Homo sapiens: one gene and its partners. The protein of the gene in region 2 purifies or fractionates together with the protein of the main gene of each other region. This does not show direct contact. Each region holds a gene or a part of one and is shown on either strand. Other genes may lie near its edges.

What was found.
Region 1: the proteins of CAMKK1 (region 2) and ANXA7 purify together in Homo sapiens (affinity purification with mass spectrometry, with the first as the bait; one large-scale study listed by BioGRID). This does not show direct contact.
Region 3: the proteins of CAMKK1 (region 2) and GLB1 purify together in Homo sapiens (affinity purification with mass spectrometry; one large-scale study listed by BioGRID and IntAct). This does not show direct contact.
Region 4: the proteins of CAMKK1 (region 2) and RMP64 purify together in Homo sapiens (affinity purification with mass spectrometry; one large-scale study listed by BioGRID and IntAct). This does not show direct contact.
Region 5: the proteins of CAMKK1 (region 2) and BRINP1 purify together in Homo sapiens (affinity purification with mass spectrometry; one large-scale study listed by BioGRID and IntAct). This does not show direct contact.
Region 6: the proteins of CAMKK1 (region 2) and ELAC2 purify together in Homo sapiens (affinity purification with mass spectrometry; one large-scale study listed by BioGRID and IntAct). This does not show direct contact.
Region 7: the proteins of CAMKK1 (region 2) and SAFB2 purify together in Homo sapiens (affinity purification with mass spectrometry; one large-scale study listed by BioGRID and IntAct). This does not show direct contact.

Annotation. Positions count from the first base shown.
Region 1 is NC_000010.11:73,396,619-73,400,781, forward strand, and holds part of ANXA7 (annexin A7), read right to left. Parts: intron 1,768-4,163; coding exon 1,563-1,767; intron 657-1,562; coding exon 546-656; intron 1-545. UniProt on the Homo sapiens protein: Calcium/phospholipid-binding protein which promotes membrane fusion and is involved in exocytosis.
Region 2 is NC_000017.11:3,865,007-3,869,169, reverse strand, and holds part of CAMKK1 (calcium/calmodulin-dependent protein kinase kinase 1), read left to right. Parts: intron 1-3,158; coding exon 3,159-3,262; coding exon of another isoform or gene 3,263-3,266; exon of another isoform or gene 3,267-4,013; intron 4,014-4,163. UniProt on the Homo sapiens protein: Calcium/calmodulin-dependent protein kinase that belongs to a proposed calcium-triggered signaling cascade involved in a number of cellular processes. Phosphorylates CAMK1, CAMK1D, CAMK1G and CAMK4. Involved in regulating cell apoptosis.
Region 3 is NC_000003.12:33,009,485-33,013,647, reverse strand, and holds part of GLB1 (beta-galactosidase isoform a preproprotein), read left to right. Parts: intron 1-4,163.
Region 4 is NC_000003.12:113,009,009-113,013,171, forward strand, and holds part of RMP64 (nucleolus and neural progenitor protein), read right to left. Parts: intron 3,804-4,163; coding exon 3,726-3,803; intron 2,399-3,725; coding exon 2,037-2,398; intron 1,697-2,036; coding exon 1,635-1,696; intron 1-1,634. UniProt on the Homo sapiens protein: May play a role in cortex development as part of the Notch signaling pathway. Downstream of Notch may repress the expression of proneural genes and inhibit neuronal differentiation thereby maintaining neural progenitors.
Region 5 is NC_000009.12:119,204,773-119,208,935, forward strand, and holds part of BRINP1 (BMP/retinoic acid-inducible neural-specific protein 1 precursor), read right to left. Parts: coding exon 3,947-4,163; intron 1-3,946. UniProt on the Homo sapiens protein: Plays a role in neurogenesis and brain development. May suppress cell cycle progression in postmitotic neurons by inhibiting G1/S transition.
Region 6 is NC_000017.11:13,011,066-13,015,228, forward strand, and holds part of ELAC2 (zinc phosphodiesterase ELAC protein 2), read right to left. Parts: intron 3,432-4,163; coding exon 3,374-3,431; intron 2,211-3,373; coding exon 2,142-2,210; intron 718-2,141; coding exon 598-717; intron 1-597. UniProt on the Homo sapiens protein: Zinc phosphodiesterase, which displays mitochondrial tRNA 3'-processing endonuclease activity. Involved in tRNA maturation, by removing a 3'-trailer from precursor tRNA.
Region 7 is NC_000019.10:5,594,860-5,599,022, forward strand, and holds part of SAFB2 (scaffold attachment factor B2), read right to left. Parts: intron 4,026-4,163; coding exon 3,934-4,025; intron 639-3,933; coding exon 502-638; intron 1-501. UniProt on the Homo sapiens protein: Binds to scaffold/matrix attachment region (S/MAR) DNA. Can function as an estrogen receptor corepressor and can also inhibit cell proliferation.

The DNA of each region.
Region 1 (4,163 bases), on a different chromosome or scaffold from region 2:
CAGGTCTTACATGTTTTAATTTTTCAAAACAGCATTGATGACTATGAATATGGAAACATACAAGAACATTCACACTATGATACTTATGAGGATAGTTTTTAAAAATATAATTTACTGAATCTAAAACCAACTTTGGTCATAAGAACCTTTTTAATATTCCATGTTCTACATAAGATCCTCATAAATAATACTTTTTTCACACTTGAATCAGATTAAATTCTGAGTCCACCTGGAATGGTTGTCAGAATACAGTTCTGGGGGTGGTTTTACTATTGGTACAGGAGTGGGCAGAGAAGTTCCTGAAGGCTTCCTTTTGGCTTTGGGACAGATTTTTTTAATAGAAAAAGTGTGACTTTATCTCTATTTTACTGATTAAACTTTTCCATCAATTTAATATATTTCATAAAACCATTATGTTTAAAATTATTTATGGAAATATAAACATTTATTGCAGATTATCTCAAATATAAACTAAGTTCCCTCAATGGTGATTTAAAAACTCAAAATATCATGATACTGTTTTTTTCTGGACAGCTGGTACCTACCAGGTAGTGGAACCTGTGCTGGACCACCTCCATAAGACTGTGAAGGTGGCTGTGGATACCCAGAAAAGCCTGCTCCACCTGGTGGGACTCCAAATCCTTGGCCTGGAGGAACTAGAGAAAAGAACATGTCAATAAACTATAGTACAGTTCTCATGATTGCAGAAAAAACTTTAGAAAAATATCTATTGTTAACAGTGGAAAAATATGCTATTAATGCTATAATAGCAGTCCCTGTTTATCTAGATTCAAAACTTCAAATTCTCCAGTAAAAAATAAGTTTTTAAATTTTTACCTTATATATTTATTTATTTTTTGAGACAGTCTCACTCTGTTGCCTAGGCTGGAGTTTAGTGGCACAATCTTGGCTCACTGCAAACTCTACCTACCACGTTCAAGTGATTTTCCTGCCTCAGCCTCCCAGGTAGGTGGGATTACAGGCATGCACCACCACACCCAGCTAATTTTCATATTTTTAGTAGAGACAGGGTTTCACCATGTTGGCCAAGCTGGTCTCGAACTCCTTGCTTCAAGTGATCCACCCACCTCAACCTCCCAAAGTGTCGGGATTACAGGTGTGAGACACCACACCCAGCCAAAATATTACTTTATTACTCTTCCCTACTAACTTAAAATACAAAAGGGCTAAGGTTTTTTTGTTGTTTTTTGGGGTCTTTTTTACCTTTGAATAAAGCTGACCTAAAGGTCACAGTCTTGCTAATTGAAATGTCTTAATCAGGTCTTAAGACTACAAACAAGCAAAGTGTTACATATTGGTCCTTTATTGCCATGAAATTTATTCCAAGTCCCTTCACAGTGGAATTTTTGAAACTGCTCCCAGCTTTCATGTCCCCAGAGAATCTTCATCCCTCCATCTTGCCAGCTAGGTCCTTACTACCTAAGGTTACCTAAGAGCGACTTGACCTTATACAAAACAAGCAGGAATGAAGAGGATAAAGGGAGAAGGAAAAAGTGCTACAGCAATCCCAATCATTACTAATTCCGCAACCCGTAACTCACCTCCGGGATAGGATGGAGCTCCCCCTGGCTGTGGGGCACCAGGATAGCCTCCAGGGGCTGGATAACCTCCAGGCGCAGGGTAGCCTCCAGCTCCTGGGTAGCCACTACTTGGCACTTGTGGGTAGGCACCTCCTCCCATTGGAGGAAAGCCACTAGGATAAGGATACTGACCAGAAGGGGGAAAAGATGACTCCTGACCTGCAGGCTGAAAAATCAGAATAATTTTTAAACAAATACGATCATAGAGAAATATGACCCATCTAAAAATAAGGAACAAACAGAGGTTATTATTAAGGTCTACCTCATTCTTTTACTTTTTAAAAGTCCCATTAGAAATCCTGGTATCTTATACTAGTTTATCAGTATACCAGTTTGTAAGGACACTTGTTTGTCAGAATTCAGTTAAATTTAATTCTACTTGAGTCAGGCAAGAGGGGTCTGCTTCTCTATTTGGGAGTCAGAACAGGATTCTTTACAAACCTCAAGGTTTTAAGAAAAAAAAAAAACTCATCAGTTCCTTCATTTTCCCAGCATCTACAAATATGAGAAAGATCCTCCTCTATATCCTAAACAGAGGAATTTGAGGCTTTCTTGCAACACATCTGGATCTGTTACATAATATTTAAAAATAAAAAAGGTAACCTGTATATCACATCACACACCGGATGTGACATTTTGGACTTCATGGTTCAGAGCAGCAATATGCAGAGTGGCAGAGATTGTTGCATGTTCACTGAACTCTTTCTCCCCAGGCCACAAAGCTATACAGACTACACTTCCCAGACCCCCTTGCAGTTAGGTCGAACCACATGAATGAATATCAGTAAATGAACATAGACAAAAGTGAGATACACCACTTTCTAAACCTGTCCCCTAAAAACCTCTGGCAAATCCTCCATGCTCTCTCTCTTCCTTCATCTGCCACCCATAAGCAGAGGATCCAGTGGAGGACTCCAAAGTGCTAAAGGATGGTAGGATCAGAATAAGGAAGGAGCCTGGAAACCCAAAACACTGCATGAAACAAAGCCTCGTCCCACCCACCCCCTATCCTCCACTGACGTCCAGGAAACTGAAGAAAGAAATACATTTGTTTTTTCATCGTGTTAAGTCACTGAGATTTGGGAGTTGTCTGTTTTAGCAATTAGCCTACACTGACTGAAATAGTTACTACAGTCCTGTTTAATACATAGGGACTTGGGAACATATCCATAATTCTCATCTCTCCTATGATAAATTCACGAGAGCTATATAATCACTTTGCATAAGGATACATATTATCATAAACTTGTATAGACCCCTCTTCCTATTCTCCCAGGGTTAGATAGCAGCCCCACAGTTATGAGTATAAAACCAAAATGTGGGCTGGGCTAAGTGGCTCATGCCTGTAATCCCAGCGCTTTGGGAGGCCGAGGTGGGCGGATCACGAGGTCAGGAGATTGAGGCCATCCTGGCCAACATTGTGAAACCCCATCTCTACTAAAAATACAAAACCTAGCTGGGCGTGGTGGCACGTACCTGTAATCCCAGCTACTCAGGAGGCTGAGGCAGGAGAATCGCTTGAACCCCAGGAGACGGAGGTTGCAGTGAGTCGAGATCACACCACTGCACTCTAGCCTGGTGACAGAGCGAGACTCCATCTCAAAAACAAAAACAAAAACAAAAACAAAAAACTGAAATGTGGCCAGGCGCAATGGCTCATGCCTATAATCCCAGCACTTTGGGAGGCCAAGGAGGGCAGATCATTTGAGGTCAGGAGTTTGAGACAAGCCTGGCCAACATGGTGAAATTCCGTCTCTACTAAAAATACAAAAAATCAGCCAGGCACAGTGGCGGGCACCTGAAATCCTAGCTACTCGGGAGGCTGAGGCAGGAGAATCACTTGAACCCAGGAGGCATAAGTTGCAGTGAGCTGAGATCACACCACTGCACTCCAGCCTGGGCGCACAGCGAGACTCCATCTCAAAAACACAAACAAACAAACAAACAAAAACTGAAACGCACAATTCTTACTTATGGCTCAGCTCTTAGTCCTCAGAGTAGTATAGCTATCAACAAGGTGGAACTTAGTAGCACATTTATAAAACGTACTCCAAGTCTAAGAACTACAAATCCACTGCAATTTATCTCTGGGTCTAGCCAAGCCGTTAATTATTTTAAACATTCTAACACAAAGGTTAAGATGCAGTGATATTATGACTCAAGGGCATTAAAAAAAAGAAAAAGAACCAGTGATTCATGGGATGGATTTTGCTTACATCCATGTTTTACTGGCTCATACAGCAGTTAACATTTTTTAAAACTAACTCCTAAATTTTGAACCTTTGGGCAATTTCACATAGAACCCAAGTTTCTGGCTTTACTTGAAGGGCTGGAGTATCTAGCAACGCTGAGTGTGCCTCCCTCCATGGCTACACAGGGCTGGTGCTAAGCACCTGCCAGCTTTCAATAGACAAAGCAAGACCTCTCTAGTCCCCCACACAATTGCCTTTCCTCACTTCTACGTAGTACCTCTGAGCATCTGAATTTATGACCCCTGCTCAAGCATATCTGTAAGATCTGACATGGGCCAGTCCCAAACAACACCTGTTTTAAGGATGTGAG
Region 2 (4,163 bases):
CTTGAAACCCCGACTCTACTAAAAATATAGAAAATTAGCTGGGCGTGGTGGCGGGCGCGTGTAGTCCCAGCTACTCGGGAGGCTGAGGCAGGAGAATGGTGTGAACCCGGGAGGTGGAGTTTGCCGTGAGCCGAGATCGCGCCACTGCACTCCAGCCTGGGCCACAGAGCGAGACTGCGTCTCAAAAAAAAAAAAAGAAGAAAAGAAAAGAAAGAAATACCGGGCGCGGTGGCTCACGCCTGGAATCCCAGCACTTTGGGAGGCCGAGGCGGGTGGATCACGAGGTCAGGAGATCGAGACCATCCTGGCTAATACGGCGAAACCCCACCTCTACTAAAAATACAAAAAAATTAGCCGGGCGCAGTGGTGGGCACCTGTAGTCCCAGCTACTGGGGAGGCCGAGGCAGGAGAATCGCTTGAACCTGGGAGGTGGAGGTTGTAGTGAGCCAAGATCACGCCATTGCACTCCAGCCTGGTTGACAGAACGAGACTCCATCTCAAAAAAAAAAAGAAAGAAATAGATGGCCCTTGCTCAGCGGCAGCAGTCACCGTGACTGGAAGAAGCATTTCATTCCGTCCAGACAGTTACTGAGCTTCCGTTCTCCAGGCACTGCACAAGGTGCCGAGGACAAGGCAGGGGAACGGCCTGGGCAGCCTTTGGATTGGAGGAGTGGCCCCAAAGCCCACGTATCAGTTAGGCGGCGCCTGCGTCTCCCCCAGAGCCCACGTATCAGTTAGGCAGCACCTGTGTCTCCCCCAGAGCCCACATATCAGTTAGATGGGCCTGCGTCTCCCCCAGCGCCCGCGTATCAATCAGGCAGTGCCTGCGTCTCCCCCAGATCCTGTGTATCAGTTAGACGGTGCCTGCATCTCCCCCGTGCCCACGTATCAGTTAGACGGCGCCTGCTTCTCCCCCAGAGCCCACGTATCAGTTAGACGGCGCCTGCTTCTCCCCCAGAGCCCACGTATCAGTTAGACGGCGCCTGCTTCTCCCCCAGAGCCCACGTATCAGTTAGACGGCGCCTGCTTCTCCCCCAGAGCCCACGTATCAGTTAGACGGCGCCTGCTTCTCCCCCAGAGCCCACGTATCAGTTAGACTGCGCCTGCTTCTCCCCCAGATCCTGTGTATCAGTTAGACGGCGCCTGCTTCTCCCCCAGAGCCCGCGTATCAGTTAGACGGTGCCTGCATCTCCCCCAGATCCTGCGTATCCATTAGACAGTGCCTGTGTCTCCCCTAGTGCCCGCTCACATTTCGGTTTTGCTCCTCTTCCTCTGCTCAGCTTCTGTGTTGGCACTTGGAAGTGATTCACATAGTCCCCCGTGGCCACCTGGGGCCACTGAGAGCCCTGCCCTGCCCCTGCCTGACAGTCAAGTGAGTCAGGGCAAGCACAAGGCCAGGAGGAGAGCCAGGGCCACTGCCGTTGGCGGGGCCTGGCCTTGCACTTTATCCCCCTCTGCAGGGTCCCGGCCCAGCTGGGACCAGCTGGCTCAATCCCTGCCCCCTATGCTTACTTGACTCTGTGGGGTCGCTGGAACCAGGCAACTCCCACGGGGTCCCCATGACCACTTGCCTGATCTTAGCCACCATCTCCTCTCTCTCAGACCACTGGAACAACCTCCCACGCTGTCCCTTGCTTCTACTCTCACTCCCTGTCCCCCTGGTCAATGCTCAACTCAGCACCCAGCATGGTCCCAGTGGCATGAGTGTGTCACCTCCCAGCTCAGAGCCTGCTTCTCACTCGGGCTGCTGTGTCCCTCAGAATCAGACCTCCAGCCTGTGCCCCACCACCCGCCCTGTTTTTCTGCGGGGCTCGTGCACCGTCCCGCCATCATGCACTCGTCTCTGGCCACGTGCCATGGAAGGGGCTGCCCCAGAGCCTTCAGACTTCGCTTCCCTCTGCCCGGGGAGTCCCACCCCCGATGGCCACGGGACTCGCTCCCTCACTTCCTTCGGCTTTTTACGCCAGGGTCCCCTCCTAGAGAGAAGCGAGCCTTCCCTGACCCTGTAGCTTCAGCCTCCCCTGCTTCACACCTCATCGCCATTCCCTTGTTTTATTTTTTCCTTTCCACTTACTGACATACATAATTTACTGATTTTTCTTCTTTACTTATCGCCTGTCTCCCCCAACTAGAATATAAGCTGTATGATGGCTGGGCGCAGTGGCTCACGCCTGTAATCCCAGCACTTTGGGAGGCCAAGGCGGGAGGATCACTTGAGGTCAGGAGTTTGAGACCAGCCTGGCCAACATGCTGAAGCCCCGTCTCTTCTAAAAATACAAAAAATTAGCCGGGTGTGGTGGTGGACGCCTGTAATCCCAGCTATTCAGGAGACTGAGGCGGAAGGATCATTTGAAGCGGGGAGGCAGAGGTTGCAGTGAGCCGAGATTGTGCCACTGCACTCCAGCCCTGGGCAACAAGAGCAAAACTCCGTCTGAAAAAAAAAAAAGGCTATATGAGGGCAGGAATTCTGGCCTCAGTGTGGCCCCAGGGCCTAGAGTAGTGGCCAGCACCCAGTAGGCAGCCAGTGGTGACCAGTGTTGACGGGATGGATGGACACAAGCGAGGGAGTGAAGGGACTGGCAAGTGTGCCGCTGCCTCTCTGCATGCGTGTGAGTCGGCGTGTCTGTGGGCACGGCATGGAACCGTCCTTGTCACGGAGGAGGGACAAAGGCAGAGAGCCAGGCTGCGGCAGCTGTTCCCCTCCTGGCAGCCCCACTGACTGGGCCACCGGCTGCGGCTCAGCCGCTTCCCGGGCCGCCCTGCAGTAGCATCTTGGCATCTTCTCGGCGGCCGGAAGGCGGGAAGGATGGCACAGCATCCCTCCATGGCATTGCTGCCGTAGCGAGAAGGTATCTTCTAATGGACTCCCACTTCCAGCCCTGGCCCTCCCCACTCTTTCAGCCTGGCCTTGCGGACCCTTCATGGGCTGGTCCCGGCCCCCTCCTCATGTACCAGTGGCATCCGGCTCCTCACCATTCCAGGAATATGCCCCCAGCTGCCAGCGCCCCGTGTTCTTGCCTCTGCCATTTCATGCTGTGCTGATTGAGATGGGACCCGCACTGCGGCCCCCTTGGCAGCTGCTCTCGGGGAATCGGAGCAGAGGCTGCGTGTCTGGGAGCCTGGGACCTGTGCTCCTCACGCTGCCTTGTCCTCCTCAGATCCTGGTGAAGTCCATGCTGAGGAAGCGTTCCTTTGGGAACCCGTTTGAGCCCCAAGCACGGAGGGAAGAGCGATCCATGTCTGCTCCAGGAAACCTACTGGTGTAAGTACTGGTGGGCCAGGGACTGCCGGGCACTCCCTGGAGTTGGGTGGGGAGGTCTGAGGCCCATCCTCCCACTCTCACTGTCGTTGGGCCAAGGCCAGAGCCTGGGGACTTGGCCAGGTCTCGGTGTTGGCCCCATTTGCATCTCTGTCCCCAAGGTTAGTCGGGGCTAGAAGGGACCTTTTGGGCCCAGCTCTTGCTTCATTCCTGGGGCCAGCATCCCTCACACACACACTTCCAGGGATGAGGAGCTCACGCAGCCCCTCCATGGGACAGGAAGACCCTTCTTCCATGCAGCTTGATGTCACTCTCTCACTGGGTCCAGCCCCTCTGGGGCTTCAAATCTGTGGCCCCCTCAGCCCTTGGCAGCCTGGCAGAGGTTTGCAGACAGGCTGATGTTGGCTTCCTGTAGGAGGCTGGCGGGCTGTAGAGGAGGGGTGCTGGCCCCTCTGCCTGGCCCTGGGGACTGTTGGCTGCTCTCCCAAGTGGCCCAGGCTGCCTGCAGCCATTGCTGGGGCTCTGTGCCCAGTCAGCACTTTGTGAGTGCTTGTTCAGTGAGTAAGCAGGGACAGGCTGGCCGGTGGACCACGGGAGAGGAACCCGCATTGGCCGAGGGCTCCCTATGGTGAGCCACGCCTGTGGGTTCACCACCTCCTAGGAGGGTCCAGAAAAGCAGCTCCCCAAGCCTGTGCGCCTCGTCCTCAGCAGATCCACCTTCTTCACTATAATAAAAGCCAGTCTGGGATGCTAATAAGGCCTGTGCTGGAGTTTGTACACAAACCTGCAGAGAGAAAACCAGTGGGGTCCTGAACCACAGCGTGGTCCTGGGACAGCCACTGCCTTCCTCTGGCCCCGGAGGGAAGCTTTGGGGAAGGGGCTGGTGGGAGTTGTTTGCCCCACC
Region 3 (4,163 bases), on a different chromosome or scaffold from region 2:
CCACACCCCTGGGGCTTCTATCATAAGCTGTCTGCTTCTCCACTCTTCCTCATCCATTTTCACTTCCCAGTCACTCCGCCTTGTCGTTTGAAGACATTGGCATATCTTCCTTCACCGCCTTCTCCTCTCCCTCATGTCCTGTTTTCATCCTAGATCACCTTACCATCACTCATTCAACACACTTCTCATTCTGTGGCCACTATGTGCCCAAGGTGTGTGCCAGGCACTAAGGATACAATCATGAATAAAACCAAACATGGTCCTTTCCCTCATGGAACTTTCAGTCTAGTGAGGGAGGCAGACTCATATTAAAAAGTAAAACCATAGCTGTGATGGATGCTAAGAAGGGCTATGGGGTTGATAATAATTGGTGCATTTTGCCTTGTCAGGGAGGTCAGGGAAGCCTTCCCTAAGATAGTGATGCTTGTCAGAGATATGAAGGATGAGTAAGAATTAGCATGGCAAGAAGGGAAGAAAGCATGTTCCTGGGAGAGGTAACAGCTTGTGCAAAGGCCATGGGGTTGGAGGGGAAAATGTCAAGTGTGGAAAGTAGGTAGAGACTAGATTGGGACGGGCCTTATAGGCCACGTTAAAGTTTTGTCTTTGTGTTGAGAGCCATTGAAGCAGGAGAGTGACATGATAAGACTGTGATCTGACAAGCTCCTCTGACCCCATTGTGCAGAATGGTTTGGGTAAGGACACTTATGGATTCGAGGAAACCATCTAGGAGGCTGGACCATAGTCTCATTGAGAAACTGGGATGGTGGTATCTAAGATGGAGATGACATCAACTATTTGAGAGATGTTCAAAGTTGGATCAATAAATTGTGACAATGGATTGGACAGGAGGGTTTGGGGAGAGGGATATGTCTCGGATGACTCAGGTCTCAAGCTTGCAGCTGGGCAGAATGGTACCATTTGCTGAAAGAAGCAGCTTCAGAAGGGGACTTAGGCTTAGAAAGGGGGGTCATGAGTTTGAATTTAGACCAATTGTGTTTGAAAAGCTGCCTTAGTCTATTTGGGCTGCTATAACAAAATACCATAAGCTGGGTGGCTTATAAACAACAGGCATTTATTTCTCACAGTTCTGGAGGCTAGGAAGTCTTCAATATCAGGGCACCAGTAGATTTGCTGTCTGGTGAGAGTCTACTTCATCATAGACAGCACCCTCTATGTCCTTACATGGCTGAAGGGGCAAAGGAGCTCTCTTGGGTCTCTTTTATGAGGACACTAATTTCATTCATGAGGGCTCCACCTTCATGACCTAATCACCTCCCAGAGGGGGCCCCACCTCCTAACCCATCACATGGGGGCTAGAATTTTAACAGATGAGTTTTGGGTGGACACAAACATTCAGACCATAGCAGAGGCCTTGGAGAATGGCTGGGAAAGACAGTATTGGAGGAGGGTTGTTGGATCTATAGGCTGGGAATTCAGGGCAGGGATCTGGGCCAGGAATGTATGTAGAAGATCATTGTTGTATAGATGATTGTTGAAAACATGGGCTGGATGAGGTCTCTCAAGGAGAGAGGATGCAGAGGGAAGAAAAGAGGACGTAAGGCTGATGTTTGAGGGACAAAAACATGATGAAGACTGAAGAGGAGAGACCAAACAAGTAGGAAGAAAACCAGCATTTATGCTGCCAAGAGGACAAATAAGATAAAGACAGAAGCACTTCGGTGGTTTTAGAAGCAAGGAGGCCCTTGGGAATCAGTAAGCCTTGTTCCAGTGGAGTGAAGCATCTCCCAGCCAGATTGCATTCTATAGAGAAGACCAGGGTAAGGAATACGAACAGGAATACTTGAATATAAACGTTCTTTTTGAGAAATTTAATTCTGAAGAAGAGGAGAAAATTATGTTAATAGCTGGAGGAGGAGAAGGCAAAAGATGTACATGGTGTGTGTTTAATAAAATGCCCTTTTATTTATTTATGTGTTGCTTGTTTAAAATTTATTGAAATGTATTTTCATTATTCTGTTTGAAATATTTTCTTTTTTTTTTTTTTTTTTGAGATGGACTCTGTCACCTAGGCTGGAGTACAGTGGTGTGATCTCTGCTCACTGCAACCTCTGCCTCCCGGGCTCAAGCAATTCTCCTGCCTCAGCCTCCAGAGTAGCGGGGACTACAGGCACACACCACCACTCCTGGCTAATTTTTTTTATTATTTTTATTTTATTTTTTATTTTTTGTTTTTTTTTTATTTTTATTGGAGACGGGGTTTCATCATGTTGGCCAGGCTGATCTCGGACTCCTGACCTCAAATGAAGTCTCGAAAAGTGCTAGGATAGACATCTGAATTCATTCCAACTTATAGTTATTATAGTTATTATAATACTGCTGTAAACACTTGCATGTAAGTTTTTATGTGAACTTGGCCTCGAAAAGTGCTAGGATTACAAGTGTGAGCCACCACAGCCATCCTGTTAGAAATATTTTCTACTTTCCCATATGATTTCTTCTTTGAACCATAGATTATTAAAAAGTATGTTTTACTGGGTGTGGTGGCTCATGCCTGTAAATCCCAGCACTTTGGGAGGCCGAGACGGGTGGATCACCTGAGGCCAGGAGTTCAAGACCAGCCTGGGCAACATGGCAGAACCCCATTTCTACTAAAAATACAAAAATTAGCCAGGCGTGGTGGTGAGTAACTGTAATCTCAGCTACTTGGGAGACTGAGGTGGGAGAATCTCTCGAACCTGGAAGGCAGAGGCTGCAGTGAGCCAAGAGCATGCCACTGCACTCCAGCCTGGGTGACAAAGCAAGACTGTGTCTCAAAAACAAAACAAAAACAAACAAACAAAAAAAGTATGCTGTTTAATTTCCACATATTTTGGGTTTGTAAAAATATCTTGTAATTATTAATTTGTAACTTAATTCCTCTATAAAACTTCTAAAATTTCTCTCTAGGGAGAGAAATCTCCATGATCTTGGGTTAGGCAAAGACTTCTTAGATTTGACACCTAAGGCATTATCCTTAAAGAACAAAAATTGATAAATTGGACTTTATCAGAATTAAAAATATTTGTTCTTCAAAAAGCATTATTAGGAAAATGAGAATCCAAGCCACAAACTGGGAGAAAAATAATTTTCAAATCATATATCTAACAAAGGACTTATATCTAGAATATGTAAAGAATTCTTACAATTCAATAATAGACAAACAGCCCAGTCACAAAAGGAGCAAAGAACTTGAATAGACATTTTACCAAAGAAGGCATAAGATGGCTAAGTACATTTGCATTTGTATACCTTCTTTGGTAAAATGTCTATTATAAACTAAAATTAGTGGCTGATTAATGTTCAACATTATTAATCATTTGGGAAATGCAAGTCAAAACCAAAATGAAATACTACTTCACACTCACCAAGATGGCTAAATAGTAAGAAGGACAATAGGCAATGTTGGAAAGGACATGGGGGAAAGGGAATCTTCCCACATTGCTGGTAGAAAGATAAGAAGGTACATTTGGGAGCATAGTTTGGCAATTTCTTCAAGGGCTAAACATAGATTACCATAGAACCCAGCAATTCCGCTCCTAGGTATATACACAAGAGAAAGGAAAACATGTTCACATAAAAACTTACATGCAAGTGTTTATAGCAGTATTATAATAACTGTAAGTTGGAATTAATTCAGATGTCTATCACCTGACAAGTGGAGAAAGCATGTATATCCATACGATTCCTCAATAAAAAGGAATGGAGTACTGATAACATGCCACAATCCAGATGAATTGGAAAAATATTATGCTAAGTAAAAGAAGCCAAAACTAAAAGGCTATGTATTGTATGACTCCATTTATATGAAATGTTCAGAAAAGGCAAATCCATAGAGATAGTAGCTTACTGGTTGCCTAGGGCTGAGGGTGGGAATGGAGCGTGACTGTTAAGTGGGCATGGGGTTTCTATTGGAGCTGATGGATATGCTCTGAAACTAACTTGAATGATGGCTGCACAGTCTTCTTAAATGTATTTAGACTTGTTTTATGGCCCAGCACAGGCATATATCTTGCTGAACATACCTTTGGAATTTTAGGCTTTAATATCCTCTCTCTGGCTGCATGTTTCTATGCACCAAACTCTCATGCCTACCAACCTTGCTCTTAAATCTTTTTTTTTATTTTTTTGAGACAGTCTTGCTCTTGTCACCCAGGCTGGAGTGC
Region 4 (4,163 bases), on a different chromosome or scaffold from region 2:
CTCAATTTAGAAATGTTTCTGAAAACAGGGAAGATATGGGGCCCTGCAGAGTGCCCAGCAGAATAAGCCCATTAATCAGTTAATGCCTGCTGAATATCTATTAAAAATGCTCAATTGAGCAACACTTCCAATTCTACTTCAACCATCTTCTGACAAGGCACCTTTACTTCTTCAACCCCTTCTTTCTATATCAAGTCACATTTGGATTTTACTAACGTTTACTATTTCTTTATGAAAATATGCTGCCTACGAGATGATCTGCTCTTTCATTCAAAGCTTACCTTCTTCCAAATTTCTTACACTCAAAAGGAACTTTAAAAAAAAGTAGAAAATATAAAAGTAATGACCCAGGTCAATAGTTTATGTTTGGTGATCAATAGAAGTAGTTTGCTTTAAAGCTAAGCAAGTTAGTGCTATTTGCTAAAAATATAGTAGCAGTTAGTTTTGAGTAAGAGGGATGCTGACCCACCAACTTCAAAGCCAGCTCACCTACAAACAGGTGCACAGGCTGCAGAAGTTTCAAGGTTCACAAAGCACCATAGTTCTTGAGATACAGTTGAAAAACTGTTCTGGGGACTGGTGAATAGTAAAGAAGAAAGACTATGAAACCATACTGCCTGCATTCAAATCGCAGCTCTACCATTTATTCACTATGTGGCCTGGCAGTTTCTTGGCCTTTCTATGCCTCAGTTTCCTCATCTGAAATATGAAAACAGTAATAAGCATGCCCACCTCACAGAGCTTTTGTGATATAATTACATGACTTCATGCATATAAAAGCACTTAGAACAATGCCTGGCACAGAAAGTATTACTCCTCACTCTGAATTCATAAATTGGACAGAACATCAATGGAAGCTGGAGTCCTTAAGTTCAAGAAAATATGTTTAAGAATTCTTAAATAAAAGAAGTAAACTAACCCATGAAAAATACCAGAAGTAGACATTTTGCAAAGACAGGGTTAAAAAAAAAAAAAAGTCAAGTTACTGAGTAAAACAGTAATGCCGATGTACTTATATGCTGTTAGGTCCAGAACAAACAGAATTTACAGACATTAATCAATCATGTTAAAACTTGAACCTCAACAGGAGTAAAGGAATAGCTTCATGACAAAATGATGAGGATGATGACCAAAATGACCGTAGCTAATAACATCTAACTCCAATTAAATGCTTACCATACTCCAGACTACCGAACGCTTTACATGCATTAAAACTAGCACAACCCTATGAGGCACATATTACTATTACAAAATAGAGGTACGGAGAGATCAGGAAACTCACAGAAGGTCACACAGCTAGTACCAAAGCCAGGATTCAAACCAACTGTCTGACTGCAAAGCCTATACTCTTAAGCTGCAGTACAATCCATACTTAACAACAGATCTTACGGTTACTTTAAAATTCTAGAGAAACTCCTACTAAAATATTTCTGAAGGTACTCTATTAACTGAATTAACTAGATGTATTAAAAATCCCTTGCCTCTATTCATTCAGAAGCACACACTGACAACTAAGAAGGCACTAAGCTTAGAGCTGGGGATAAAATGAAAAGATTCAATCTCTGCCCTTGGTAAGAAGCATCCTCTACAAATTAGCAGAAATCATAAGCTAAATTTAATGAAGCCAGACAAACCTGAGTAGCTTTGTGTTTCAGCTGGTTGCAGAAAGCCCTCACATCAAATTCTGATGACTCTTCTGTGGAGGTGGAAAAATTGCAGATACAAAACCTTAGGCATACTATTTTCAAATCTACAACAAATTCTTAAGTGCATGACATTTCTTGCCAAATTACCACAAAATAAAGGAATAAAGCAAGCAAATAACTAGGAAGCAACTACAGAAACAAATAAACAACTTAAAGTACTCAAGCTTAGAAAGCACAGGTATTACCATACCTCTCTAATCAATATGAGTCAAAATTAAGATGTGAGATGTTGAATTTCTTTCTATGCAATGCATGACTATTACTTTCAAAAGGTTTCTTTTTATTTGTTTTTTGTTTTACTAGAGTATGTGCTGTATCAAAGCAAATTACCTTTGAAGACTCTCTTATTCTTTACTGGCTGTCCAAGATCCACATTATTCTGTACATTGATCTTCATTTGTTTAGCTTTTTTTGAAATTCCAAGCAAGGTTTCTTCACTGGCTCTTGGTGACTGCTCATTTATTAAAAACAGTTTATTTAGCAATTTATTTATTCCTTTAGCTGCAAAAGCTATAGGCATTTTTTTCTTAAAGGCTTCAAAATATGGCTGTCCTAAAAATTCAGTGATATCAGAAGGAAAGGTAAAATCTTTGAAGTAAGGCATTGGTTGAATCCTAGCGACCTCTTGAAGCAATCCAAACAAAGGCTCATATAACAAAATCAACCTTTTTAAGACACCTTTATAGAGAACCCTAGAGAAAGAAATAGGAGCTCATTAATTAGCCAGTAATTACAATTTGCAGATTACATAATAAACTGCAAGATTGAAAGCTGAAAATAAATGGCTATCAAGGTCCTCCAGTACAGATAAAAAACACTATAGTGCACACTTGCGAACAGCCAGATTAGTCCAACCCAACAGAAAAATCCAAGTATAAAATGTTACTCAAAAAACTGTAAGACAGTCTACCAGGAAAGATATATATATATTCAAAAAGTACTACATGGAGAAATGTACAAAAGGATGCATATCAAAGTTTTAAGTGTGGTAGATGGTGAGATTTTAGGCAAATTTCAGGTTCTTCACATTTCTCTTTTTAAATTTCTTAAAACAGGCATGTATTATAATCAGCAAAAATTAAAGCTATTTTCATTACAGAAGAGAGTATCAAAGGTTTAGCATTTTAAAATAATATGATTAGTAATCAAACATTGTTACCTCTGATTAAGAATAAGTAGAATAAAAAATAAAACAATAGGAAATACTATTTGAGATATCCAGGTTAAGATATCAAAGCAAGGTTTTCAATCTCTAAACACAGAAACTTTTTTTCTTTTCTCCATCCAATGTTTTCTTACATTCATATTAGAACTAATAATCTTAATTGTTTGAAATGGCCCAAAACAGGCCTTCTTACAGATACGGGCAAATTCTAATTATCCATCAGATCAGTTTCACAATATGTACTGAGAGACATGAAAGAGATGTCTCTTTAGTTTCCAAGTATTACCAGCATACATCAACTAAATATGCTCAAAAAAGCAGTGGTGTTTGAGATGGAAGAAAATAGTCTAGCACATAAGAAGGTCAAAAATTGCATTTATCATTGCCATTAAAAATTAGAAACCGAGTGACAGAAAGAATCAAGTGATACAGCCAGCCCAGGATTAGCATCATTTTAAACGGCCTGTTGCAATATGACTACTACCAACAATTTTTTATTACTGCAATTCCCAGTCACAGGCATTAATTTTTTTAATGTTCAGTAAAAGCCCACTGATGTTTCACTACAACCTACCATGACCCAGATTTCAGTGTGACACCAGTCACTCCCGATTTTTTTAGTTGTTCAGTGATTGGGCTGATCTTGTGGATTGAGATACAAAGCCTACTCCTTTGATACAGCCATCAGCACTCGGCTTCCCAATCTACCCTCAAAAAACTCTGATCAAACCAAGAAAGAGAATACCTGCACCTTCCATAACCCCATAAGAAAATAAGTTTGAAAACTACTAATAAGAAACCTAGGCTGAAAGGAGATGAGAAAGAAATGAAGGATGTCAGAGGTATGTACATACCATAACCTGCTCACCAGCCCAACCATCACAAGGTTTAAAATAATGAACTCTTGCAAACCTAGATGTTTCACAGTCAAACTGGAAAATCAATTTAAGGTAGAAAACAAAATCAAAGTAATGTGGGTTTTGTAAGTTACAATCATGAATGAAGAAATATATTGGAAGTAAAGAGAATTTTCTTAAAGGTATTAAAGCCTTAAAACACATTCTATTTAAGAATTTAAAACTTTAAAATATGGTTATAAACACTCTGCTAGAGTTCCCATTATTAAATTTAGTTCTTAAAGTTTAGTTTCTAAGATTAAGAATTTCTAGCTATCAATGCTCTTAGGATAATACGTGCTGAACAGTGACAGGCAGTCTCTGGCAATGGCTGCATCAGGCAATTCCTGAGAAAAGGAGGCCAAGAAGCAAAAGTTTAAGAATTCCTGTAGGTTG
Region 5 (4,163 bases), on a different chromosome or scaffold from region 2:
CCTTTCACAAATGAGGTGCAGGACTTACATAAAGCTCTGTGTCTGGTAAGTGATGGAGCCAGGATTCGGACCAGTCCATGTGTGGCTAAGGCCCTGTGCTTGTTCCCTCTTTCCCTCTCCCACCTTACCTTAACAAAGCCACCTGTTTGTGAGACAAGTAAACATCTCTGTGGCACCTGCTGCAGTAATGGCACCTGCTCAGCACACTCATCTTCCACAGACTTCAGCAAGCAGACACATTGAAACCATGCAATCAGTTCATTTGCAAATACCAGCTTGCTCAGCTAGAGGTGGCCCAAGGTTCCCAGTGTTAGCACCTCTGTCCGACACTGCTCCATGCCAGAGAGGTGCCCTGCGGTGTGAGAAATACTCATTAAAGCCTCAGATTCAGATGTCAGGAAGCGGCCCACAGCCCGTCCAAGGAAGTTCATCTCTCCTGGGAAGGCTTCAGAGGAATTAGCCACAGAGCCTAGTGTCTGTGTGCTCCTACCCCTCGGTACCTAGCACTCAAAATTCCTCAAATTAATATAATTGAGTGACCTGCTAATGGTGGAACGCCAGACATCCTCTCCAGGTGAGAAGAATATGATGATTAGGGCAGGTTTTCTCCTCCTTAGTAGGAGAGACGGCAACACTGTGAGCTCTTTCTTTGAAGGTCCCATGATGGTAGAGCATTTTTAGCTATTTACACCTGACGACTTGCAGAAGGAGAGCAGAGACTTATTCAAAGATGCAGACACCTGCACTGAGCATGGTGAAGTGACTTGCCCAAGGACACACAGCTTACTAGTGGTAGGACAAATCCAGACTCCTTGACTTTTCCCAGTGTTACTCCTATTACCCAGCTTTGTCCCTCCTTCTTCCCTTGTAATACCTATCCAGCTACCCTCCTTCTAAAATCCTCTCGAGTCTTCCCTTGAACTTAGCATATCTGATGATGCTTGGTGTTCTGGAGATTTCACTCAACTTTAATAAATATGCCTGCCTAATGTCTTTGGGACCTTTGGATCTTACTCTCCATTTTCTGAGATGACAATCACCGTAACTGAAAGAGGTTATTTGTTTGAATTCTTATCATGGTCAAACATGGCCCTCCTCAATCAGATTTGCATCGAGCTTCGTTGCTCCTTGGGATGCACAGCTTTTTCACCTAAAGATCTGATCAAAAGCTACCTCCTATAATATTCTGGGCTGAATTACATACCCCTCCAAACTTATATGTTAAAGTCCTAGCCCCCAGGATCTCAAACTGTGACTGTGTTTGGAGACAGGGTCTTTAAAGTGGTAATTAAGTTAACATGAGGCCATTTAGGTCAGCTCTAATCCAATATAACTGGTATCCTCTTAAGAGAGGATATTAGCACAGGGCATGGTGGCTCATATCTATAATCCTAGCACTTTGGGAGGCTGAGGTGGGTGGATCACCTGACGCCAAGAGTTTGAGACCAGCCTGGCCCATACGGCAAAACTCCGTCTCTACTAAAAATACAAAAATTAGCTGGGTGTGGTGGTGCACACCTGTAATCCCAGCTACTCGCAAGGGGAGGCTGAGCAGGAGAATCGCTTGAACCTGGGAGACGGAGGTTGCAGTGAACCAAGATAGCGACACTGCACTCTAGCCTGGGCAACAAAGCGAGACTCCATCTCAAAAAAAAAAAAAAAAAAAAAAGAGAGAGAGAGAGGATATTAGGACGCAGATGCACACAGAGGAAAGACTACGTGGAAACACAGGTAGAAAAAAACAACCATCCACAAGCCAGAAAAAGGGGCCTCAGAAGAAACCAAGCCTGCTGACACCTTGATCTTGGACTTCTGGCCTCCAGAACTATGAGAAAATAAATTTCTATTGTTTAAGCAACTGAGTCCATGGTACTTAGTTATGGCAACCATCATAAACTAATACATATGGGGTCTGATTGATAAAAGAACCCCTCCCCACTCCTGCTCTACAAGACATCTTCCACAGCACTGTTCGCTGTGTGCATTTCTGAATTTCCCACAGTGCTCGATGCAGGTCTCATGGCAGATGTGTGATGGATCTAAAAGGAAGCTTCTTCAGAGACTTGCTCGTGGTAGCAGTCTGAGCATCTGTTGTGCTCGACAAGAAAGTAAGTTTGTGACCTTTTCTAGTCCCTGCTTCAGCAGCATTGCAACAAGAAACTGGCAAAAGAAATTCTATTTGATCCACAAAACAATATAATTATCACAAGCTAGATGCAAAGCAGTGGGCTCAAATTTGGAGGGAATAGGGAAAACAGAGATGAGTTTGAATGTCTGTACAAGGAGGAGGTTTCATAAGGGGGGAAAGAGAGAGAAATATGCTAAGGAAAGGATTTTAGATTAGTGGGAATCTAGAATAAGAAGCTTTCTGTATTGGCTAGTACAATCAGGAAAGACTTCATGGAGGGAATAGCAGCATTAGCTCTGACGCAAGAAAAACGAGAGAAAAAAGGGTGCACCTCATCGGGGTAATTAGGTGGATGGACTGTGGTAGAAGACTGCCGTTGTTAAATGTTGAGTGCCAGTAGAACAGACTAGTTAGGAAGATAAGATTTTGATTTATAGATTTATTAAAGTTGGTTCAAAAGTCATCGTGGTTTTTGCTGTTACTTAAAAGTAATGGCAAAACTTAAAAAATAATGGCAAAAACCACGATGACTTTTGCATCAACCTAAAATAGCTGGCATCTTGTCTCTCTTACATCAGAATTGCTAAGCCTGAGCACCAGCAACTTTTGAAGTCACATATTTCTTTGTTGTGAGAACTGCCTGTGCAATAATACCCCTAACCCTTGCTACGATACTCAAAATTGTCTTGAGATATTTTCAAATGTCCCCTGGGGAAAACGTCACCCCCAAGTGAGAACCACTGATTTACACTGTAGCTTTGGACAAATTACTTGACCTCTCTCAGCTTCCATTTCCAGATTTGTACAACAGGGTAACAATCATATATATAAATATGTGACTGACACAGGGTATGCTAGGTGAATGTGAATGGACTTGTTCTTTTTAAGAGTGGATCTTTTTCTTAGAACTAAATTGAAGGTAGAACCCCCAAATATGCAACAAATAAGAGCAGAGCTGCTCTGTCTGAAGCAGGGTGGAGAGAGAGCCCCAACCTGCCCTTTTGCTGTCTTGTGATGCCCTTTTAGAAACCCTGGAGGCACCTCTACAGTAGGAACTACCAGCTGCAGATCAGAAATGCCCCGGAAGAATAGAGTCCAAAAAACCTGGATTCAAGTCCTGGCTCCTTCCTTCTGTGCCCCTGAGAGAGTAGTAAACCCTAATTCTATGGAGGCATGGGCCCTGTCTTGTCCATCTCTGTATTCTCCACCATCTAGCAGAATACCCGGTATATCCAGGACATGGCTGGAACTAGGGGAGGCAAGCAAGGTAGCCAGGCACTGAAGGTGACACTCTCTCAGGTGAGGACCCTGCACTCAATGACCCCGCAAGTGTCTCCTGACATTTTGTATTACATTTTGTTATTTGTGTCACTCACTCCTGGCTCTGCTCAAAGGACCTCATAAATAAGGTGGCGAATGATTAATTAGTTAATCCAGTTTTTTCACCATTAAGATGGGGATGCTAAAATTGGCTTTGCTCAGTAATTTTAAAATTAAATATGAAATATATTTTTAACAGCCAGGATAATGCCACATAACTATCAGGGCTAGTGTTCCCCTCCTCAATCAGGTGAATCAGACAGAACACAGAGGCTGAAAATTCATGGTACATTCAGGAAACAATGTGGAATCTGAAACAATGTGGAGCCAGTAGGTGAGGACCCAGAGGCAATCCAGAAAATTGTTGGTCTGGACCATGCGAGGTCCTGTTTGCCACCCCACAAATGCACCATCTGCATTGCATTTCACTCTGCAGCAAGATAATGTAGCTAACGCCAGGTAGGTGCCTGCAGAGGTGGAGGTGGTGGCAACACTTACCTCTCTCTAGGCAGCTGGTGGTTGGGATTGTGGCGACAGCGTACACTGAGGCCGAAAAGCTTGCGGGCAGTGCGTTGGATCTTTTGTCTCTGTGCCTCCGTGGCACTCTGCAGGAGCTTGTAGCGGTTCTGCAGGTCCCAGTCATTGCCCCAGTGCTGATGGATGCTTCCGATGGTCAGGAAGTGGTTGCTGGGGAGGCGCTTCATAAATGATTTAA
Region 6 (4,163 bases), 9.1 Mb from region 2:
CATCCAAACAAGGACAGCACATAGGGGTCAGCCTGTTCTCAGTCACTAGACAAGACCTCAGGACAGAAAGAGGAGCTGCCGAGCTTTGCCAACGCTGACCTTCTGTTAAGGACAACAAACTCCCGAAGCGGCCTGACTCCTGAGCTACATCTCATCTTGGACTTTTAACTCCGTTTCCCAGTGGGCTGTCATTCTGGAAGACGTGCAGAGCCTCTCACTGATTTGACTGTCTCATTGGCTTAGCAGTTATAGTTTCCACATTAATGGAAAATTTGCATAAATGTTACATTAATGAAAAATACAAAATGAATCCGTTTGTCAGGCCCTGTTCTCCTCTGGGAAAACAGAACACAGTTTTGGGCCTACCCAGACCCTGGGTGGCCAAAACTGTGGACTGGTCATTATTAAAGTTGCAGGCTGCCACCTTTACAACAACCCTTCTCATTCCCCCAACGGGCCAAGTTATAGTAAGCCCAGGAAGAAGGATCTGTTTACACACCTGGCTTTCTTACAATAATGACTCTCTACAAGCATTACAAGGCAGAGAATTAAGAAAACGCAAGCCTTTCTGCTGCTCTGTTTTGTTTATACTATTACCATGTGGAAGGTGTGGCTCATTTTCATTCGACTCGGAGTCTGAAGATCGCTCTGGACTGAGCCTGCTGAGAGGCCTTTCTGGACTCTGCCATGGTTGGTGCTTTCCCCTCCTCTGTTCACCTGGTCAGTACAGATACCACCAAATTACACACTGCACAAGGTGAGCTGACAGCCAAGGCCCAGACGTTCATACATGGGAATGCCAGAACGCCAATTAAATCAGCACACCTTTTACTATACAGTAGGAAATAACTAGTTAGTTAACTTCCTACCTGGTTTCTGGGCTGCACCTATGTCCTATTAATGTTTATGTTTCTGCTTAGCTCACAGCCTCGGCCACAGTACCAACTCAACAACGTGTTATCTAAACAGCATGTGGGTTGTAGACATGCTTATTTATTATCATCACTCCCGCTAAAACACATAGACCCAAAGGGTACCTATCTCAAGAAGGAGCCTCATTTTACATTTAGTTAAGGCTCAAGATCAAGGGAAAAAAATTCGCTGCTCTAAGAAGCTAAAGCACAGCTGCAACGAGAATGAACGTAAGTTCACTCACTGAGGGCCGCTGGACACTGAAAAAACAGTGATCGGCAAAACTGAGCATGTTAACATCGATCACGCAAATCACATATGAAAGTTAACTGTCACATGCCATGGAGCGAAGAACAGGGTGCTGGAAATGGACAACAAACAGGTGGATGCAACTCAGGCTGGGGGTGGCTACAGCAGGGGTCAGGTGAGAGAAGGCATCTGAGCAGGAGGAGCAAGCCAGGCAATGGGAGTGCTGATCAGCTCATCACAGCACTGGCCTAGGAGCACTTGTGCCATTGCTCCGGCACATTCCTCTCCTCCCTGCTGCCTTCTGCCTTCAGTCAGTGTAAGCCTCATCTCCTCGCCAGGTTCTGGACTTCTCTGGCCTTTGCTGGGTGCTCTGGTCTGTCACCCATCAGCACTACTTAGTAAGCATCACATTAGTTAGTACTAACAAGGAAATACCCCTACTGCTTGGTACTCTCTTCACATGTAAGTAAAACCAGACATGAATGTCTTTAGCCAAGTTCAAGGACAAGACTAACTCTTTTCCTAAGCTAAGACCACATCATCTGGCCCTGATACTTCGGAATTTGCAGGAGCTTCTAACCCCCAACAACACTTCTTTTAGGTTGCTGTAATCATTATTTATTTAAAAAAATCTATCTGTGCAAACCTCTTCATGATCGTCTGATCAAAAGAGGGTATTACGCCTGTGGGAAAAAACCTCCAAGCAATGAATGTGCAAACTTGAATGCAATCTATTTACCAACAGTGCTTGATTATCTAATATTCCAAAGCATAATCACTATCATTAGGCATAAGTCAGACATCCGTAAGTTTATAAGCCAGGGCAGGAGCCATATCTTCATTCCTCAACTAAATTTTCTAATCATGCTCAGAACACAAAACAGGGTGCCCACAGCAAGTGTTCAGTTTCTATTTTCATCCATGTTTTCTTTACTCAGGACGTACACCCTCCTCCTGGGAAACCTGGCTTTCATACTCACTGTGTATGGGGATCTGGTAAACTGTCATGGTTTCATCCTCGTATTCTGGGGCAGAGTGGGGCCGCACAGCTACAAGAAAACCACACAACAGCAAAGTGATTGCATTAGTGAAGATGTGTGGGAAGAGTAACTTCAGGATCACCAACCACGAGCAACTGAATTGCCTCAGAATTATGGTGGGAATCTGACACGAAAACCAGACTTTCTAAGGAGATTACCATTTTTAGGAAATAAATAAAAGTGTATTTTGGTCAGCCATTTATATTTACTACAGCCAGATGAAAAGACATTATAATCTTTGGTGACTATCCGTTAAAAATTGAAAAACAAGAAACTAGTACTCAACTTTCAGAGACCCAAGTTAACAAACAGAATAGTGAAGCCAGGGAACCTATCATCGCAAACCAGAAGAGCTGATGTATATTTTGAAACAAAGTATTAGTGTTTCTATAAAAGAGGAGTATTAACAAGCCACAGATACACACCAGTGCCAGGACAAGAGCCCTACTAGCATCCTCAGTGAGGCCTCTTCCCATCAAGAGGCTGTAAGCCCCCCTGCGCAGCTGGAGCTGCGTTTCAATGTACAAAGTTGGCCACAAAACCTCTAGGGAACCCTTGTCACCCCCGCCCCCAACTCAAAGCAACTCAACGACGAGAAGCACCTCTGGAACTGAGGCAGGAGCCCTGCCGTCTGGATGGAGAATGCCACACAGCATGTACACAGGCAGGCATCAGCTGTTCAATCACTCCTGCCGACCTGGCCCCTATTTTTACAGCATGAGGTGGGAACACAGAAAATGTCACTATTTAGAAATCCCATCTCCAGCCACATGGTAGCTCATTTTGGGAGGCTGAGGCGGGCAGATCACAAGGTCAAGAGATCGAGACTATCCTGGCCAACATGGTGAAACCCCGTCTCTACTAAAAATACAAAAAATTAGCTGAGCGTGATGGCATGCGCCTGTAGTCCTAGCTACTCAGGAGGCTGAGGTGGGAGAATGGCTTGAACCCAGGAGGTGGAGGTTGCAGTGAGCCGAGATCATGCCACTGCACTCCAGCCTGGTAAGAAAGCAAGACTCTATCCAAAAAAAAAAAAAAAAAAAAAAATCTCGTGGTGATGAAGCATTTGATTTTGAGGTTTGATGTTGATGTTTTTAATGGATTCTAATTTGAGAGGTCAGGGCATATATAAGTTAGAAATAGCAGAGGATGAGTCACAGACAAAGACGTACCCAGTTCTATTCCTTTCAATGGACCAGAAAATATTTTGATTGCTTCGAGGTATTTTTCCTAATGAAAAACAAAGAAATGAGCAGTTATGGTTGAACAAATGTAGAACACAGCAACTATTCAAGTATTTAAAAGGTTACCAATAGGTATCAACATAAAACAAAGCTTAGTAAATATTTTGAACATCATTTATTACAAATATTTACTGAGTATCCATTATATCAGATGCCAAGGATATAGCAGGAAAAAGAGATGGAGGCCTTGCTCTAATCAGGCCAGTGGAGGAGACAAAAGGAAACACGATAACAGAAACAGCTTAGTGGCATTATGCTAAGTGCTCTGCAAGGAAAATGAAAAATACAGAAGGCTGGGATCCAACTTGTCTAGAGAAGAAGAGGCAGTTCTGGAGTAAATGACCCTCTAGCTGAGCCCTGAAGGTTCAGTAACAATATAGGCAGCAATTAGAAGAGGCAGAGGGAACCCGCGGAAGGGCGAAAGTCCTGAAGTGGCCAGGGAGTTAGAGGGACATAAGAGTCAGCCCATGCAGCTGCAGTTCAGCGATGGGTACAGATGGAAGTGTGGGTAGCGGCCGGGGCCTACAGGACTTGTAGGCCATATCAAGGTGTTTTGATTGTATTGCAATGGGGAGCCCATGAAGGGCTTTAGGGTGGCAAGTGACACACTACTTTTCTGTCTTGAAGTGACCTCTCTGGCTGCTGTGTGGCAGATGGATTACAGGAAGGCGAGAATGAATATGGGAGGCTATTGTAGTTTACAGGCATAGAAAACAGA
Region 7 (4,163 bases), on a different chromosome or scaffold from region 2:
TTTTTAAGAGACAGGGTCTCACTCTGTCACCCAGTCTGCAGTGCACTGTTGTGATCACAGCTCACTGCAGCCTTGAGCTTCTGGGCTCCAGCAATCCTCCCACCTCAACCTCCTGAGTAGCTGGGACTACAAGTGCACGCCACCATGCCCAGCTAATTTTTAAATATTTTGTAGAGGTGGGGTCTCGCTACATTGCCTAGGATGGTCTTGAACTCCTGGCTTCAGGGGATCCTCTGGCCCTGGCATCCCAAAGTGCTCGGATTACAGGTGTGAGCCACTGCACCTGGCCCTTTGATGACTTTCATGCCACCTGGCATGTCTGGCGGCTCACGTGTGAACAGGTGCTGGCCCCTGCCTCGAGGACCCAGGTTAAGCACGACACCCGCCAGCCCAGGCACTGGCTCTCGGGCACACAGACTGCGCACTCCAAGTACAGCTGGGAGAAGGACAGCCACCCCGAGAGGAAACCACCAGCCCACAGCCTCACCCAGCTCCACTCACCGCCGCCTCTCCGTTTCGCGGATCTCCCGTTCCCGCTGCCTCTGGCGCTCTCTCTCCCTTTGTTCTTTGATTTTATCAAACGACAAGATGTCTCTCTTTTCTTTGCTTTCTGACTTGCGATCCTGACTCTTGGAGCTCTGTTTACCAAAACTGGTTTATTAATGTCAGGAAAATGATTGCAACAAACAAACAATGGAGATTATGCACGTGTGCATGAGACTAAGATTCTCTGGCCCCACATGGTGTAGATGGAAGGCTGTGGTCTCCAGACCAGAGGCCCAGGCATAGGCTGCTTCCCTCCAAGTTTGCATTTTACTGCCTAATCCAGAATCCTGCTTTCAGATGTCAAGGGGCATTCATGGAAGAGAAGAGGTTGGCCCACGCCTCAGAAAACCTACAGGCACAGTTCTTCTAGCATAGCACAGCCAAGGACTCACATAATCCAAAGCAAACCTAGGCCTCTCAGAGCCACGGGCACATCCGCACAGGGCCACTGTGGCCATTAGTTCAGAGGGGACAGCAGTCAGGCCAGCTGTTTGGACAGCTGGAGGGCAGACTACATGTTTCACATCTCAACTGCTGGCTCAGGACTCAGGCAGACAGCTCTAAATAGAATATGCCAGGCCGGGCGCAGTGGCTCACACCTGTAATCCCAGCATTTCAGGAGGCCAAGGTGGGCGGATCACAACATCAGGAGTTCGAGACCAGCCTGACCAACATGGTGAAACCCCGTCTCAACTAAAAATACAAAAATTAGCTAGGCGTGGTGGCGCATGCCTGTAATCCCAGCTACTTAAGAGGCTGAAGCAGAAGAATCGCTTGAACCTGGGAAGCAGAGGTGGCAGTGAGCTGAGATTGCGCCACTGTACTCCAGCCTGGGTGACAGAGCGGGACTCCGTCTCAAATAAATAAAGAGAATATGCCAAAATGCTTTAATGCAAAACAGTGCTCCTAATAAGGTACAGAACACTAATAGCCAACTTCCGTAATTTATTTTTTGTAGGTTTTTTGGGTTTGAGACCCAGTCTTGTTCTGTTGTCCAGCCTGGAGTACAGTGGCTCAGTCACAGCTCACTGCAGGATCAAGTGATCCTCCCACCTCAGCCTCCTCAGTAGCTGAGACCACAGGTGCACACCACCATGCCTGACTAATTTTTCTATTTTTGTAGAGACAGGGTTTCGCCCTATTGTCCAGGCTGGTCTCAAACTCCTGAGCTCAAGTGATCTGCTGCTTCATCCTCCCAAAGTGCCGGGATTACAGGTGTGAGCCACCGCACCCAGCCTACATTCATCATTTTCTATCTGTGGCATAAAGCTCAGAGCTGTAACAACTGACTCCCATTTCCAAGGTTCTCCAGGGCCCCTCACCCAAACTGGCTACACATCAGACCCTCCCAGGAAGCTTTTAAACAACACAGAACCTGAGGCCTCCTGCTGATCCACACAGAATCTCTGGGGCAGGGGCCTGGGAAATGACATTTTTAAAAAGCTACTCAGTTTATTTCCCTAATTAGCCCCCATAGGAGAGAAAGAGCGAGCAATGAAAAACAAACCAACCCAACAGAAAGACAGGCAAAGGTCAAGATGAGACATTACACCAATTATTAATAAAATGCAGGCTGGGGAGAAAGGGGCACACAGACACAGGAGAGACACACATCACCCAGCACTTTGATGGCAAGCTTTGCCTACGAGACGGGCAGATGTCTTACACACACTGCAGTAGAATAAGGTGACAGATGCCCACATACCACCGCACAGTGGGCAGCACAGCAGGCAACAGTGTCAGCACGGGACTCCTGGGTTCTCAGGCCAGCTTAGCCACTTACTAGCGACCTGGCAGGTGCAACACACCCAGGAGATTTAAGTCCCCTCCACAACCTTTCTGAACAGCACTTTATTTCAAAATTTAAACGTTAAAAGAGGCTGGGAGTGGTGGCGCACACCTCTAATCCAGCAAGTTTGGAAGATCAAGGCGAGAGAATCACTTGAAGCCAGGCTAAGCAACAAAGTGAGACACTCCCACCCTTTATTTTTTTTAATAGGTAAATATCATGCATAAAATAAAAAATATATGTAAAAGCGAAAAGAAAAAAAAGCAAAAAGGAAAAAAGCCAAACCGTATGTGTCTGTATGTAGAGACCTCCAAGGCATATTACACAGAAAGTGCAAGCTCCAGCACATCCTCTGTCTGTGGTCCCATGGCAGGCACAGGGGACGTGTGTGCAGAGGAAGCCGAGGAGCCCAACTGGACACACGGAGGCTTTAGTATGCCCGTGCTGCATCTCCTCAAGCTGACCAGATGTTCTAATCATGCATGTGTCATCACTACTTGTTTTCAACATCACAGTTACATGGGGGTAAGAGTATGGGTCTTTTTCAATGTTCTACTCTACATTTCTCTGTATCTTATGATTTTCATGTGAAAAATGACATTAGGAACTGATACTTTATAAAATCCAAATGTTCATTTTAAAAACTAAGTCTTGGTTGGGCACGGTGGCTCAAGCCTGTAATCCCAGCACTTTGGGAGGCTGAGGCGGGTGGATCACTTGAGGTCAGGAGTTCGAGACCAGCCTGGCCAACGTGGCAAAATCCCGTCTCTACTAAAAGTAAAAAAATTAGCCTGGTGTGGTGATGTGTGCCTGTTGCCTGTAATCCCAGCTACTCGAGAGGCTGAGGCAGGAGTCGCTTGAACCCAGGAGGCAGTGGTTGCAGTGAGCAGAGATCACGCCACTGCACTCCAGCCTGAGTGACACAGCAAGACTCCATCTCAAAAAAAAAAAAAAAAAAAAGTTAAGTCTTAACAACACAAAGTGGTCCTGGCTGAATATGGTGAACTCCACATTCGTTAAAAAAGTACTGTCACCTCATGAATATCTTAGCTAGAACCTGCAGCTGGGAAGCAGAGGTTTTTATTGTTTCCCAGAGTGAAAAACGCAAATGAGACGCTATTTCGTCTAGTTGTGTGCACAACTCGAGAGGTACAGCTCTTGATCTGATAACATGACCAGCTCTCTGTCCTAGGTTGGTCTCTACCTTTTTGGTTAATTTAATAGGAGACTAAAAAACCAATGGAAGAAAGTAGCCTGCTATTAAGTCAACCAAAGAGTAGGACCTGCCTTCCGGCTCGAAAAGCCTGGGTCTGGCCCATCCCACCCTATGGTGAGCTGCCGTGTGAACCAATGCTCTGTCTGAAGGCGGCACATCCCGGTCAGGAGCCAGTAAGGGAAGCAAACACGGATGGGCACTGCTCTGCAGAAAGCACCAGGATTCATGTGTGTGTCTGTATCCGCAATCTACACAATTATCGCGCCTCCTACAAACTTCAATTTTAAAGGCAAAACAGTGCTGTTTTCATAATGCGGATCAAACGGGCCGTGGAGCCATCGTGAGAAACAGCTGGCCCTGAGATGGCAGAGGCAATACTCACTCTCTCTTTGGACCTGCTTGTGGTTTTCACGCTAATGACGGGCTCTCCTTTCGATTTATCCATCACGACCGTCCGCTCCATTCCTCTGCTTCCTTCAGGAAAAAACACAACAAACTATCAAAACCTGTGGACGCCCCAACTTCCCGCAGTAAACAGCACTCTGATGGACCCTGGGCTTTTGAACACACAAGGCGTGAGTCAAGTGACTGACACTAGCCTTGGGAGCCTCT